2 separate regions of the Homo sapiens genome follow, and region 2 is linked to region 1. A link means that fine-mapping ties the variant in region 1 to the expression of a gene that starts in the linked region. Tissue or cell type: skeletal muscle. Region 1 holds a variant in brackets; the other region holds the start of a gene. All regions are shown on one strand. Distances are from middle to middle.

Region 1 (8,500 bases):
GGCATTGTAGGAAAAATACAGCAAGTCATTTATTGGTCATAAAGACCTTACAGTGAAATGGTGAGTGGAGAAGGGAAGAAGTTTGCAGACTTCCTTCTAAATAAGACTCAGACAGAAAGCAATGGAAGTTCAATGGAAAGGAAGGTTGCAGTGACATTAGTTTTTTATTTTTTCTTATTTTGCAGTGACATTGATTTGAAAAAGACATTTGGGAAATATGTAGAATGTGCCTGGGTTTGCACTTTGCTTCTGGAATTCACTAACGATGTGATTTAAGGCAAATTTCTCTCACTGGAGTGCAGTGGTATGATCATGACTCCCTGAAGCCTCAAACTCTTGGGCTCAAGCAATCCTCCCTACTCAGCCTCTCAAGTAGATGGGACTTACAGGCACACCATCATGCCTGGCTAATTTTTTAAATTTATTTTTTGTAGAGGGTCTCACTGTGTTGCCTGGGCTAGTCTCAAACTCCTGGCCTCAAACTCCTGGCCTCAAGCTATCCTTCTGCCTTGGCTTCCCCAAATGCTGGGATTACAGGCATAAGCCATCACACCCAATCTAAGGTGAGTTTCTTAACCGATCTGAGCCTCATCATTTCTTCATCTGTAAAGCAAGCACAGTCTTTCCTAATGTGCATTGAGGTTACAGGTAATCAAGAGTGCATGCTAAGCACTTGGCATTTTGTCTGGGACAAGGTAGGTGATATTGTCATTATTAAGAAAGATCAGGAAGGGCACCCCACAAGCTTGAGGTCAGAATGCCTAGCAATTGGAATTACTCAACATCTGAGTTAAGGCTGGGCTCTAACACTAGTTAGCTGGGCACCAAGGAAAACTCAGCGTAGGATGGATATTGTGTGCTGATGAAATGCTACATGGGGTGGTGATATTTACTGCCCCAGGTTCGTCATGGTGTGGAGAAGGTAAGGTGTGATCCTAAATATGAAGCCCCTTTAAAAGGCAATTATCAGCCATACAAATCAGGAACACTAGCATATAGAGAGCAATTTGAAATTTGTATTTGGCAGGTGTGTCTTGGAGAATCTCTAGGGAAAATATGTCCTCTTAAAAACCTTAGAGGATCTGTGAAAAATGTACCTTGCTGCCCCATCTGAAGGCTTCCATACCTCCTCTTCTTTCCTCAAACCCTCAGATGGGACATGGATTGCTTCCTTCTGTCTCTTCATTACCGGGGATAGTATTAATTCTTTGGTGTTCTTTATTATCCTTATTTTTATTATTATGTGAGAAATTTATTAGTAAAATTTTCAGTAAGTAGGATTACAAGCTAGTCTACCTGTGGATAGAATTGCAGCATATATAATACAATGAGAGAGTAGGGAGGGGAGATAAGGAAGCAAGGAAGAGAGAAAGGGAGAGAGTGATTTGTTTAAATTTTTAAATTATTTTATTTTATTTTATTTTGAGACAAGATCTCGTGTCTCCCAGGCTGGAGTACAGTGCTGTAATCGGCTCACTGCAGCCTCGACCTGCTGAACTCTAGCAATCCTCCCACGTCAGCCTCCCTAGTAGCTGGTACTACAGGTACATGCCACCACTCCCGCTAATTTTTTGTTTTTTTTGTAGAGACAGGATCCCACTATGTTGCCCAGGCTGGTCTTGAACTCCTGGGCTCAAGCAGTCCTCCCGCCTTAGCCTTCCAAAGGTTGGCATCAGACACCACAATTCAAGAAAATGAAATAAATTAACAAAATTATTAGGCTAAACCGTGATTTTTTTTCAGACACTGAATTTAAGTTTCTAGGTGTGTGCATTAGTAAGATCTAAAAACATTTCTCTTTTATAGGAAAAGAATTGAAAACTTTGAGAAAAAGATAAAGTGCCCAAATCAAAGCATGCAGAGCTAACAAATGGTAGAGCCGGCAATTGAACATAGGTCTCTCCATAGGCAAAGCCTATGTATGCCCTTTCCAGGGCACCAGGCTGCCTCCCTTAGCCTTGGCACTTGACTTTGATACTGGATACTCTTTTTAAAGACGATGTTATGTAAGTATACAAGGGTTACTTGTTTATTGCTTTTTAATTCACTCTCTACCCAGTATTTAACTGAAACTCTGACTTTCAAGGAAGTGTTATCTGTTATTAACAGACGTCAGGGTATAACAAAAATAAATTATTTTTATTTAGTAGTTTAGGTAACTTCCTGCCTTCAACATTTAATGCTTTGTTCAAACTTCTATGTAGAGAAGAATCTAGTTCATAGATATTTTTCATAATGATCATTCAAAGAAGTGGTGTTCACAAATCGGTGGTTATCTCAATTAGCTACCATCTTCCTCCTTTATGAGCATTTCCCTTCTCCTTTCAGACAGAAATAATATCTCTCTCCTTGGTGCTCCAACAGCGCTCTGTGCCTCTTCAATGGCAAAGCTGCATTTGCTTTGTCTTCTTCCTTGGCGGCTATAGTTTTGATCTAGACTGTAAATTCCCCACTAGACCATAAGTTCCTGTATCCTTCATTTGTAATATCTTAACAATATTCCAAGTATTTATTAGCCTAATTAAATTTTATGTGCCGTATTTTTAAACCGTTTCAGAGGAATTAATTTTAACAATGACTGGGTTATTTTGGTCAGATAATTCGTGAATAATAAGGAACATTAAAGCACTAACTAGTCCTGGTAATGGAGAGGCAGAAGGAAAGAATTTGGTGCTGGACCTAATGGCTGGAAGAAAGGATGAGCTGTGGAAAGGTTTTAGAAAGGGCTGCATAGTACATTTTCAGGTTTTTATTTGCTAACTCTTTTTCAGCTATTAGGTTGGTGCAAAAGTAATCGCGGTTTTTGCCATTGAAAGTAATGGCAAAAACCGCGATTACTTTTCTGTTAACATAATATTACAAATATGAAAGTGTGGATAATCAAAATAGAGCTATAAACAATTTGATAGAAATTAATTTCTGAATCATACCTTCCTTCTCTGCTGCGGATACATAACAGTTGGTAGAATTTATTTCTGTGGGAAAACTTGTACCTATGTTCAGCCTGTGACATGAAAATCTCAGGTACTGCATCAGCAATGCATCATCATCTTTTTCTTTCTCCCATTTTTATTGCTTTTGTGATCCTGTCCTGAATTACTGGCAATGCCTCGAACAACTTTAAGTCTCTTGCCGTAACTTGGACTTACGTGCTACAGTTAATAAAAAAGTCTTTAAAGAGCATTAAGGTCTTAAATAGCAAAAGCATTTTGATATTTCAGGACTATTGCTAACCAGGGGAATCAAAGAACATATGGCAAAAAGCTGTGCTTTTTCACATTCTGAGTAGGACGGGGCAGGGGAAATTGTGAAGAAAATGAGATAGGCCTGAAGACGTCCTGTGATTCCCTCCCTCCTGGCAGCCCAAGTGGGCCCTGGAACTCCCAGTTACTCCCCAACCCCCACCCTCACAACAGCATCCTCCCCAATGTCTTTTGGTCTTAGAAATAGATCTGACAAATATTTCCACTCTGAGGTATCCATGTTAAGGTCATGATGTATAAACACGATGAGGGAGTGAAAAGTAAACAAGCAAAGCTACAGAAGTTTTAAACCAACAAATGAGCATCTAATTGTGGAATGTGGGGCACTAAGAAGCTGGTTGAGGGAGAATTTGGAGAGTGTCAGTTCTTCCTATAAAAGGTTACCCTAATCCTAGAGGATAATATTCTGATCTTCTCTGAAGAAAGTATACAACTTACAAGAAAATTCAGAGGGCATCAACTCCACCTGGAAGAAAATCCAGCTGTTTTTAAGTTCTGATGTTTTGTTTTGATTTATCATTTTTTCCTTGCCAGTGATTTATAGTTGTAGAATGTTTAGAATTGGGTTAATGGGTACAAAAATTCAGTTAGATAGAAGGAATACGTTCTAGTATTTAATAGTACAGAAGGGAAATTATAGTTAATAATAACTTATTTATATTTCAAAATAGCTAAAAGAGAAGAAGTGTAATGTTCCCAACACAAAGAAAAGATAAAAGATAAATGTTTGAGATGACAGATATCCAATTACCATGATTTAATCATTGCATGTTGTATACATGTATCAAAATATAACATGTAACTCCAAATACATACAAGTATGATATATCAATTAAAGAAATCCAAGAAAGGGGTGTCTCCATTTTTAGGACAGTTCAAACCAAAATGTTCTTCAGCTGAAGTTGTCTGCTGTGGTGGGGCTTGGGGAGAGACTAGACTGCAGGGAGGAATGAGCCAGTGGTGGAGGTGGGGGGATAGACAGGAAGCTATCACAGGAGTTCTCAGCTGGGAAGATGGAAGTCAGCACTAGGAAAAGTCACAGGAGGATCAAATTATTCTCTTCACCTATCTCTGGCTCCTCCAGCTGCCCCC[T/A]TCCATCAGCTGGTTTCCACAAATAACTGGCCCTCTAGAATCTTACTTAAAAAATGTTCTCAACAAAGGGTTCCTACTCCCACTCACATTACTTTGAAGAGATAAGCTGGAATGTTTTACAAACAACCAGCTGAACAGGTTGAAAGAGCAGATGTTAAGCTGAAATGTTGCAATGACTAGTTTTGGTTCTTGGAACACCAAACACTAGATGACATCAAGTGTGTATTTTTAGCCTTATTTATAATGTGACAAGTCACATTTCACTCTCTCCTCATTGTCAAAGGCTATTTCCAAAGGATTACGAAGGAAGATCTGACTTGCATTAAAGCTTCTTTGACTTTGAACACAGCACATGTTTTCCATAAGGAAATCAATAAAATCTGAGAGTAGAACTTGAATAATATATTTCATTTCTAATGCAGCACTCACCTAGATAATTTATAGTGTCTCATTTTAAACTTTGCAAAATCACTTGGATGGGTTCTTGTTCTTCTAGTTTTTTATAGTTCATTAATTCAACAACTATTTATTGTGCACTTGCCATATAGCATAGGGACACATATATTCATAAATTGTTGGAGATAAACAGATAGCTCTGATGAACTTCATACTTTGAAGGAGGAGACAGCCCCATGAAGAAACAATGAGAAATACAGTCTGATCATTAATATAAAGAGAGGTGTGAACAACATGTGAACCTGGCTTTTGAAAGGAGAGGCAGGAGGAGCCAGGGAAGGCTTCATGGAGAAATCTGGTTTTGAAAGACATAGAAATGAGATAAGTGAGCAAAAGAGGTTCCAGGTTGAAGGGCAATGTGTGCAAGCCTGTACCTCATATTCTAACATCACAGCATATGTACGACACTGTATCTAGCACAGTTGTACATTGTGTCATCAGTCTGTACAATATGCTTTTGTACTTGACTCTATAAATCATGAAGCTTGACAACAGTGGTGCAATTTTTTTGTTGTTATTGTTTTGTTTTTCTTTTTTCCTTGTGGTTAAGTTGGTGATCTCAAGCTTTAGCCTGTGAATGAATCAACCTGATTGATTAAACATGGGTGACCCGGGCCATATTCCCAAAGACATGATTCAGTTGATCTAGGTGGGGCCTGGGAACCTGTATAGTGTTTTTAAAAGCCCTCTAGTGATTTTAATTAAGAGCATCAGAAGATCATGCATTGAGAAACACTAGATTAGGGAGGATAGAAAGTAAGGAATTTCTGTTTCTTTTTTAGGTTTTTATTTGCAGAAGGAGAAAATGAGGAAGAGAAAGGGTTGGTAAACAGTGTAGGACAAAGGAAAACAAAAGTAGCTGAGAGAGGAATTGAGAGGTGTTGGCCAGTAGGAATCTAGGTATCAAGAAGATAAGCTGCTGATTGTCAGCGTTTGGGAGGGAGATTTGCACAGGAAGGTACACAGTGTGAGAAAATAGCAATAATACTATGTAATGTAAAAATCTTAACACAGAAATGGGCTGCAGCTATGCCAAGATAAAGCATCCTTTTACAAATATAGTAGAGAACTGTGACTGATGACAAAAATAAAAGTTGGATAGATTGTGCTGATAGTTTATTTGGATATTAAATAGAAGGTTGGCCTCAGAAAGTTTTTTGTTGTGTTCTGGCACCATCTCTGCCAATTGTGTTCTGGAAAATATCTCTTCGTGTTTATTTTCTCATCACAATGAAAAGAGAGCAATGATGTTACGGACAATGCCATGGCTCACTGGAACCTGTTTGTGTTGAAGCAACAGAGATTATCTTGATTTTGCAGTTTCCTAATATCATTTATTTAATTGCTGGTTACACCATTACTCGTGATGCTGCATTATTCATTGTGACCCCATGAATACTGGCTTCCAATGACACTCAAAGGTTATTATTGTGCCGAGTTAAGTGCCACATATGTACTTGTGATGACTACAAATGCAAGTTTTATGCAGAGTATTCAGAAAAAATGGAGAACAATAATTCATTTGCTATTCATGTTAAGTTTACAGACTGGAATGTTAGAGCATAAACTAGAGCAATGCAACAACCAGCCATGTTTTCTCTTTAACTTGTTAAATTGTAATGATGGATTCTGAGAATGTGATCCCTTTCTATGTGGCTCCCACCTGTGCCTTCCATTCACTGCCGCTCTTGGGGAGAAGATGTGAGAGCCCAAGGGCAGAGCAAAAAGAGCAGTCCCATTTGCACAAGAAATGACCATTTCTCATCTGTCATGGATTAAAACTGACCCAGGAGAGACCTCTATCATTGTACCAATCAGCCAAGAGAAGACAATGATGAGAAAGGTCCATTGGCTTTGCAGAGCAACAGATTCTCCAGAGCACTGCTGGATGCAGGGTATGGACCCTGAAGATAGGTGGAATGACTGCTTTGAGTGCCAGTGGGTGAGGGACACATAAGCTGAGAGATCACTGTTCCCACCATCCTTAGGTGCTATAGACAGTATGTGGCATCAGGGTTGAGATACAGATAGGCAAGAGCTGATGCATGGGACCACACATCTGGCTCAAACCCAAGTACCAGCAATGGTCCTCAGTAGCTTGGAGCCCAGAACTTATCTTTTCACTGGGGTAAGAGCCACCCAAGTTAGCCATTCTGATGGTCCCATCTCACATAATCCCATGAAAGAAATACTGCAAGAGTCAGCAGGAGTGATCCACTTGTCAGGCCACTGTCCTGGAACCTGCATCTGAACCATTCTCCTGGAGCCTATTAGCATGAGTTCTGATGCTCTTCAGGATCTTGTGCAGAGGAGAGGGTTGCAGAGCATTTGGAAGAGAAGAAATGGGGTTTAAGATCAGGACATCATGCCCAGACAGCATTGGTAGACCTGATTGAGTTCAGGCAACTGAGGGTACTTAGAAAATGCTGAGGAAGTCATACAAAAATACGAAGTCTCAAACAGGGGCCCTCCTTACCCAGATCTCAGGGCAGTACTGCTGTCTGGATTCATAATCACAATTCCAGTTATAAACTTTGTGATCTTGAAAAAGTTATTTAACTGAACCTCAGTTTCTTTATAGATAAAATGGGGGTTATGTCTTACAAAGTTGCAAAAATTATATGAGCTAATTTATAAAGTGTCCAGCATAGTAATGCTTAGTAAGTTTAGCTATTGCTAGCTACTCATACCTCAGCCAGGGACGTGGGTGGGGTCTGCCTGAGTTGTTTGGGTCTATAAACAACTTGTTGCATTTGGGCAAATTCTTCTATATAGAAAGTATTAGGTTGGTGCAAAAGTAATTGTGGTTTTTGCCATTAAAAGTAATGCCACTAAAAGTAACCTTATACTATTTGTTTCCGATTATAAAAATGATGTTTGTTTTAGGAAACTTGAAAACTATACAAAAACATTAACTCATTCAACTTATTGAACAAATATATATATATATGTATATATATTTTTTTCAGACAAAGTCTCGCTCTTGTTCCCCAGGCTGGAGTGCAATGGTGAGATCTCGGCTCACTGCAACCTCCGTCTCCCGGGTTCAAGCAATTCTCCTGCCTCAGCATCCTGAGTAGCTGGGATTACAGGCACCTGCCACCACACCCGGCTAATTTTTGTACTTTTAGTGAAGACGGGGTTTCACCATGTTGGCCAGCCTGGTCTCAAACTCCTGACCTCAGGTGATCTGGCCACCTCGGCCTCCCAAAGTGCTGGGTTTACAAGTGTGAGCCACCACACCCAGCCTCAACAAGTATTTTTTTGAGTACCTGCTATGTACTGTAGGACTGGTTTTAGACACTGATGATCCAGTAGTGAACAAAACCAATAAAGTCCCTGTCCTCTTGGAGGAGAGACATACAATAAATTATACACATATCTAATATAGTATATCATATATATATTTACACATATATGCATATACCTCTGTGTGTGTGTATATGTTTGTGTGTGTATATATGTGTGTGTGTGTGTGTGTGTATATATATATAACATAGGTGTTCATATGGTATGTCAGATGGTGATAAGTACAAACAGAAAAATAAGTCAGGGCATGGGGCATATGGAGTGCCAGAAGGTTTAGAGATAGGAGTTTTAAATATAGTGGCCAGAAGAGACCTCACAGAAAAGGTGACATTTGAACACGTTCTTGAAGGAAATAAGGGAATAAATCATGTGTCTTCATT
Region 2 (8,250 bases), 170 kb before region 1:
CAATTCCCAGATAAACATGACTAGAAGTGTCCTTTTAGGATTAAATTTTGAAGGTTTATCGTCTCTGGGTATTGATTTTTTTTCTATTAGCTTGAGGTAGTAGAAAACTTGCCTCAGAGTTCTTATTATTCTAATTTATACACACAGTTCCACAGTTAAAAATCAGTTAACATTCTCCATTGACGTCTGCTTCTAATTTACAGAATGTTGATTTTCGTATTGTGTAGAGATAGGCAGCCTTTGAAGGTCTATCTCACAGGTCCCACCTTACCTCTTTAACCTGCCCCCTCTCTCCATCAGTCTCACCTGCAAGGCCTGCAAATCTGAGAAGGTCTTGTCAGGGATTGTGTGAATGCCATTGCTGTGAAGCATGAGTAACTCCAGTTTGGTCAGGCCAGAAAAATCTGTTTCCATCAATCTAACCAAGCTGTTGTATCTGAAATAAAAAATGACATTCTAGGCATAAGCTAAGTCTGTCAACTAAAGTTCAAATGTCATAACCAAAATAAACACAAGAAAACTCAATACCTCTCTTTATAACTGTACTCTATTGAGACAATCAAATGCTTCAAAAACTGAAATTCACCAGATGCCACAGAAGGTCGGCTCTCTACCCAGTTCTTGCCATTTCAGTTACAATCACCCCCCTCATATTCTGGGAACTTGTCACATTTCTTATCATTTTCAAACTTTTATATATATGCTGTTCCCTCAGGTTGGAATGCCCTTGACCTCACCTTTTTCTATTTGTGAACACTTAATATCTAGCCCATTCTTTCATGACACTATCTCCTCACCACTCCCCCAGGTGGAATTCGTCAGCAGTGGTTAAGAAGCCTGGGCTCTGGAGGCCAGGCTTGGGCGTCTCGTTTGGGTATGATTACGAGCTCAGGCTCAACAGAGTAGTGGTACAACCCTGGGTAAAATCAGCAGGCTTTCTGTGCCTCAGTTTCCTCATCTATAAAATGTAAATAATAGAACTCACTCCAAAGGGGTTATGAGGATTAAATGGATGCAGTGCTTAACCCAATGCCAGCACCTACTGAGCACAACCTTAATGTTAGCTCTTAATATTAGTGACTGTCTCTAAAACACTTTGTATGCTCTATTAGTTTTTATTAATTGTACTGACCGTACATTTGTCTGGTCTTTTTAACGATCAATACACATCCTAGAAGTGAATAGTATATCTTACCATTGTATCCCCAGTGCATAGTACATGCTCACTAATGTCAAATAAACGATGCTAAGTCCAACATGTGTATTCAGACACACACAGACTTTTTTTTCATGAACGTTTAAAATACAGTCATATTTTTAAAAATTTAATTAGGCATCCATTTTAAATAAGTTTGTATGGAAAGAAACCAAAGGGCCTATAAAAAGGATACATATATATATATATGTATGTATGTGTGTGTGTGTGTGTATTATATAGGCAGACACTTCCAGTTACCCTGTCATCTCTTATGATGAATGATCATAACCCCAATAGTTAACAGAAACTATATCATTTTCCAGCAAAAATGTAGCCAGAAAGAAGCTTTTTACCGTCATGAGTCTCCCAACCTACCAAGAGGGACTTCAAATTCTAGAAGAACTTTCTCCTAATAAAAGTTTACCAGGAAAAGTTTTCTTATTGCCCCCAACAAACAAAATTCTCATGAGCTCATTTCAGAAAAGAAATATTGTTAAAACAATTGAGATTCATCTCCCAAAGTCATAGATGTTTGAGGGACAAGTCACTGCTGCGACTGATCCCTCTTTGAGAAGAGGAAACATGAGGTCTCACACACCCTAAATTGATGCGTTCCACATTGGGCGGGATGCTGTCTGGGATGGAAGTCAGGTACCGAAATGTGCAGTGTACCTCCGTAGGCATATAACAGGCACAGCGGCGAGGACAGGCCTTGCCCCCAGGGGTGGCGACCAGGCAGATCACAGCAAAGGAGACCAGCAAGCAGGTGATTCCTCTGCCTTTTACCTTCATCCTGAAAAAACATCATACCTCAGAGTTATAAAGAGTGGTGGAGCAAAGTCCCAGGACCACCACACACTCACTCTGGGAATCTGGGAGACCTTCTTTAAGGGTCGTAAGTGGTCAATTCCATTCCTACCCTTTGTGGTCATATGCACTCTTTACAAAACTATAGTGTGTGCTGCTGGCCTCACACTGCGCTTTATGATCAAGTGGGATATTTACTGTTGTGAAAATTTCTTCACAGCTTCTCACTTCTTTATGAAAACCAGCAATCCCTATTACTCAGGCATTCATTAAAAGGGAAACTGGAAACCATAAGAAAGATTGTGACAACTAAAATATATAGAATTTAGTTTCCTTTATATACATTAATTCTTTTAGAGTAACTTTCAAGAAACTGATTATAACAGTAATATCTGTGCATAATAAAACATTTGGAAACTGTAATTAAGCAGTAAAAAGGAAAAAAATTACTCAATCTCACCACTTATATAATCCTTAAACATGTTGTTGTATTCCTTTCCAGCCTTTTTCATCTATTGTGTGTATATGTATAGGTGTACATACATTTACGTGTATATGTGTACATGTGATCAAACTCAATTTTGTAACACATTTTATCATTTCATATATAATGTTTTTTCATTTTATTAAACCTTCTTCAGAAACATTTTTTAAAGGTTGTAATAATCCACTGGAAGGGAGAATAAATCTCTTTCTAACCGGTTTTCAAGTCCCTGCCAAAAAAAAAGACACATTGAACACTTCACTGCCAAGTAATGACCATAAGCAACAGCGACTGACCAGCTGAGAGGGCTTGAGCCATGCTGACCCTGTGCAGGCATGATGCTGTCTGCTTTTGCTCAGCTTCGGACATCTCTCTGCCTTTTTCCTTGGTCCCTCCTCCAGCTCATGGCTGCCACAGGAGGTGGGGAGCATAACCAGGGAAGAAATATGCTCAGCTTGTCAGAAAAAAAAAAATGGTATCTGTTACCCATATGTGGGGCAAGCCCAGGAATTCAAACCTAATTCTCTCCTGAAATGCAGGATTGAAATAAACTCTTTATTGTGCTTTTCCAAGCAAAATGACCTTCATAATTTGTAATAAATCCCACCGTTCTGTGGAACAGCATGATGTTGGATTCCACCAGCAACCACCCTTTAGCTACAAACTACACTGAGAAATAACACTGGGGCTGAACTGCTTGGATTTTCATACAGATAAAAAGATGATGGATGTATTATTATAATTTAGTCCAAATTAAAATTTAAGATAGGATTAATCATATGACCACTTTTGCCATCGTAACCACCTGGTTACAATAATTTTAAATAAGCTTTGTATGATTGGAGACAGCATTTCCACCTTATCATTAGATAAACAAAGGAAGGAACAGCAGGATGAAGGTAATTCTCTCGTTCAGCTTAAATAAAAGTTCTGGGTATGCCCACGTTCAAATTATTTAAAAGAGGATCAATAGCATAAGACAACACATGAATAAGGGATTCTCACAAACGTAAGGCTGAAAATGTACATAATGAAATAGGAATTGGCAATACCTGAGCTCTTCTTTCAGGTCCTGAGTCCTCTTGTGACATAGGCAGAGACAGAAAATCTTCCCAGGAAATGGAAAATTGTGTCCAAACCTGAGGGAGGAAAAGTTCTCTGCTCCAAAGTGAGCAAAAAGCCTTATTCTTTTTGGCTTACAGCCAGGAGTAATGCTCTTCAGGGAGACCTGGAGCCGCTTCCACAGCTTCAAAGTTCTATAACTCATAACCACATTAACCCAGAAGCGTTCTTTTATTATGATGCTTGCTGTTGCAGAAACAAAAGGCTAAGTGGAGGTTTTTAAATTTCCTTTCTCCTCCCTCAGTAGTGTACTTAATACTCCTTAAAGTTATCACTTGAATATTAACTACTACTAATCACTCCATTTTGCTCCAAAGTCCCAAGAGCTTCTCCTCAAATTGTCTTTTTTGGACAAATCTGTCACAGATGTCTCCATCTATTGATTGTCTTTCCTCAGTGTGTGTTTTTTTTTTTTGCCTGGCACCAGTCACCGAAGAATTGTCGTGTGCTTTCATGCCCCCACCTTCTCCGGGTGCGTCTTCCCTCCCCCACCCTCAGCCCTCCCCGCCCCAGCGCCCGCTTCTGCAGCCACGGTACTCGCTCCATTCCCACGCCAAGCCCCAGCCGGCGTGGGGTTCCAGCCCTTTCCGGGGAAGGATTGGCCGAGGCGCTCACCTGTTTGCCCTGGTGACCAATGGGCTCGAGCTGCCCGGGCTAGGTCCCGGGCTCGGTCCCGGGCTCAGCTGCTGGGGTCGTGCGGAGCTGGTCCGGAGCTCTGGGAGGGAAGGAAGGAAGGCGGAGCGAGGGCGGGGGATGAGCCCGACTTCTGTGTCTGGGGACGCGGCCGGGGCTCAGCAGCACAAGGATGAGAAACGACCACCGGGCCCCTCTTTATGTTTACGAGCGTGTGGGAAGCTAATTCGCCGTGGCTTCACTCTTTAAATTCCCAGGGCTTTCTCCTAGCAAGTTGGCAGGTCCTGGCTGGGTGGCAGAGCAGTTTCAGTGGCCGCCCGTTCATTTCCTCCTTGACCTCTTCCACCTGTTGACAGGTGGGCCTTTTGGTTTAAGGGTTTACGTAAATCGCCGCAGGCTGTCCTTGGTCCTGTGGCTCCCAAAGTTCTATTTGAAGGCTAAGTTAGCGTTAATGACCTGTGATACCTGCAGTGTCAATGTTTTATTTAAACCCCTCTTTTAAAAATAAGTAAATTATATTGCGTATATTTAAGGTATACAACATGTTATGGGCTATATACAGATAGTAAAATGGTTACTATAGTGAAACAACATATCCATCATCTCACATAGTTACCCCATTTTTGTTTTTGTGACACGAGCAGCTAAAATCTACTCTTTTAGCAAGAATCCCAAATACCATACAATTTTATTAACTATAGTCCTCTTGCACATTAGATCTATATAAATGTATGCTACTGTGTATTCTCTGATCTACATTTTTCCATTTCCTTTCTCCAACCCCTATAACCACTATTTAATTCTCTATCTCTGTATAATCGACCTTTTAGAAAAAGATTTCACATATATAAGTGAGATCATACACTATTTTTCTTTTGGTTTCTGGCTTATTTCACTTGGCATAATGTCCTCCAGGTTCATCCATGTGTGACAAATGGCAATATTTCCCTTTTGTTTTTTAACTGCCAAACAATATTACATCGTATATAGATGTCTCAGAGGAATTCTTTTAAATCATTATCACAGAACCGGATTTAAATACTACTATTTCTGCTTGGATTACATTCTCCTTTCTCATCTCCAACCCTACCATCTGGAGGCAGAGATGCCTCCAGAATCACCTCTACCAACTTGCCCACATGTAATATCTCCTGCAATTCTTGGTGGGGCTCCCAATACTCATAAACACTGAGTTAACATAACTAAAATGACCTTGTTTCCTTCCACGTAGTTACATAGCACTTAAGCTTTTGATGACAATTTGCAATGAATGTTTTAGGGCAGTGGATCTCAAGATAGGGTCACGGGTCCAGCATCAGCATTACTTTGGACTTCGTTAAGATCAAAAATTTGCGGGATCCATCCCAGACCCACTGATTCAGAAACTGTACGAAGGAGGCTTAGGAGTCCATGTGTTAACAAGCCTTCCATATGATTCTGATGCAGCTACAATGTGAGAATTGCTGGTTTAGTGAAATAACTTCTGAAAAATGTTTTACAAATACCAACTCATTTCAGCCTCACCATAGCACCAAAAAGCCTAAAAGGAAAGTATTTATGTTATTCCCATTTTACAAGTAAGGTACATGAAGGAAAGTGACAGAACTCCAGGCCATGTGGCTTGTGAGTAGAAAAGCCGTTAATTCAAACTCAGGCAGTCTTGCCCTATGGTCTGAACGTTTAACCATAAAGTTGTGGCTGCCTCACTTAGCTAAACATGGATAATGTGCCATATCCCATGCCGAGCATTCATGTGATTTATGGTTAGTAATAAGTCAGTTACCAAAGTAGAATTATAGAATCAGAGACTCAGAGTTAGAAGTAACCCTAGAAGCATGTATATGAACATGGTCTTTAGCTCTGCAGAGCTGACAAGATTCTTTTAAATTAAAAATTCACGTGATGTCCAAACTTGGATGCTTGCTTTGGAAATGTGGCATATTTGTCGGGTTTTGGCAGCCACAGTTTATCTTTCTCCCAAAGCTCCTTGGTGACCAACCTCATGGCTTCGTATTCTTTAGTCAATTTCTAACCCAGGTCTGGACTTCCAGACCTCAACTAGGATGAACCACAGAAAGATGACAGCAACATGTTAAACTTATTTTCCTAGGCTTGTTACCTGGGGTCATTTTCTTGCTATCAATTTCAAAGTGAACTCCTGATAGGAATGTTTGCTTCTCTTAAGAATTTTTATGAGATAAATCTCTACAATTGCTTTATGTCAGAGCTCTTCTCTGACGTATTTTCTACTTTTCATGTCATCTTCCAGAATTATTAGAAACCTGAGTCATATTGGCACCAATTCTAGTTCCATTTGCTCCACTTAATAACAATTCTAATATTTGTAATTACTTTTATAGTTAGAGTATATATGTGTCAAAGCCTTTATATGTATTGCTTAATTCTCAGAAATATTCTGATGAGTAAGTGCTAAAATTATACCAGTTTTTCAGATGAGATTGCTGAGGATAAAGAATGCTAAATGATTCAGAGCCAAAATACAATACTGAATTAATTTTAAAATTGTAAAACCAATGCTTTTAAGCCTTACATTTTCTGGTTTTTTTTTTTTTTTTTTTTTTTTTTTTTTTTTTTTTTCTGAGACGGAGTTTTGCTCTTGTTGCCCAGGCTGGAGTGCAATGGCGCAATCTCGGCTCACCACAACCTCCACTTTCTGGGTTCAAGCAATTCTCCTGCCTCAGCCTCCTGAGTAGCTGGGATTACAGGCACATGCCACCATGGCTGGGCGCAGTGGCTCACACCTGTAATCCCAGCATTTTGGGAGGCCAAGGCGGGAGGATCACCTGAGGTCAGGAATTTGAGACCAGCCTGGTCAACATGGTGAAACCCCGTCTCTACAAAAATACAAAAAAAGCCTTATATTTTCTATCTTCTTCCTGCTTCTATTTATAAAATTTGGAGAGTCCACAGCATATCAAAGAAAAGTTTCACCACTCTTTTTTCTAACCATGCTTAATAATGCAATATGTTTCTATAGATTCATATGGTTTACAAATCACTTTCACCTTTGAACATGGCCTCATTTAATAAGAAATATATGAAATTCAATGATAATGACTTTATTTTGTAATTGTAACTTTATTTTGCAGAAGTTAATTGAGTGTATAATTTGCCAAGATCTCAGAGCTGAGCATAGCGACTCTGAGTTAATTGTCAATCTGAACTCCTAAACCTGTGTTTCCTGGACTACGGTAATTTACCTACGCTTTAAGGATGGTTTGACATTTTAATTACCTCTCACTATAGTTTTACCTAATGATTTTCTTTAAATCCTCCCCCTCTTTTTGTTACTCTTTTCTTAAACAGTATTGTTGGTAAATTCTCAGGCTTTGTATTTTTTCTAGTAAACACGACAATAAATATACATCTTCTTCACCTTTTATATCACCCCTGAGAATTACATTTCCCCTCATCTCTAGGTCTTTGACATTATTTGCTGTCTTTTCTAGTAATTACTACTTCTTACTCCTCATCCTTAATTTATCATCCATACCATCCTTTACATCACCCTCCTAATCAGAGTATTTATTTAACACCAATCAACCAAGCGCAAGCAGTTACAAGTCATAGATCACCTGACAATCAGAACAAGCTATGAATTTTAAAACTGACTTATATATGTGTCAACAGATAACCAAATGCCAAAATTGTTACATATCTTTTAATCAGGCACAATCATTACCACCTCCCAGCTCCACAATTTTCATATTATTCAATTAACCAAACAGTCAAGACCTCCACTGAGTGATTCCAATAGCAGTGAAGTAGACTGACATCTTAGCCCTTCCTTTTTTGAAGTTACAGACTAGCACGGTAAGTGATAAGTGCCATGAAGAGACATAATGCAGGAAAAGGAGGTAGAAAGAAAATCAGTATCATCTTTCTTCCAATACAGTTGCAACTCAACCAACTAAAGTCAAACTACATGACTTGAAGACTTTATATATAGTATTCCAGATCTCTAACCTTTCAGAGCTTTCAGAAC

The links. PIP is the estimated chance that this variant, and not a neighbour inherited with it, causes the effect.
Region 2: it holds the start of IGSF10, and the variant in region 1 is fine-mapped to the expression of IGSF10 in skeletal muscle (FUSION, PIP 0.95).

What each region holds. Positions count from the first base shown.
Region 1 is chr3:151,626,760-151,635,259 of GRCh38, forward strand. The region is part of intron 1 of LINC02066 (long intergenic non-protein coding RNA 2066); the gene reads left to right. Among named protein-coding and RNA genes, the nearest start is that of MIR5186, 65 kb to the left of the region's middle. The variant T/A (reference allele first, on the strand shown) is at 4,356.
Region 2 is chr3:151,456,720-151,464,969 of GRCh38, forward strand. IGSF10 (immunoglobulin superfamily member 10) reads right to left here and starts at 4,342. Exons shown (of 8, transcript NM_178822.5): 1 at 4,227-4,342; 2 at 3,542-3,628; 3 at 1,797-1,991; 4 at 307-436. The coding sequence starts at 1,990.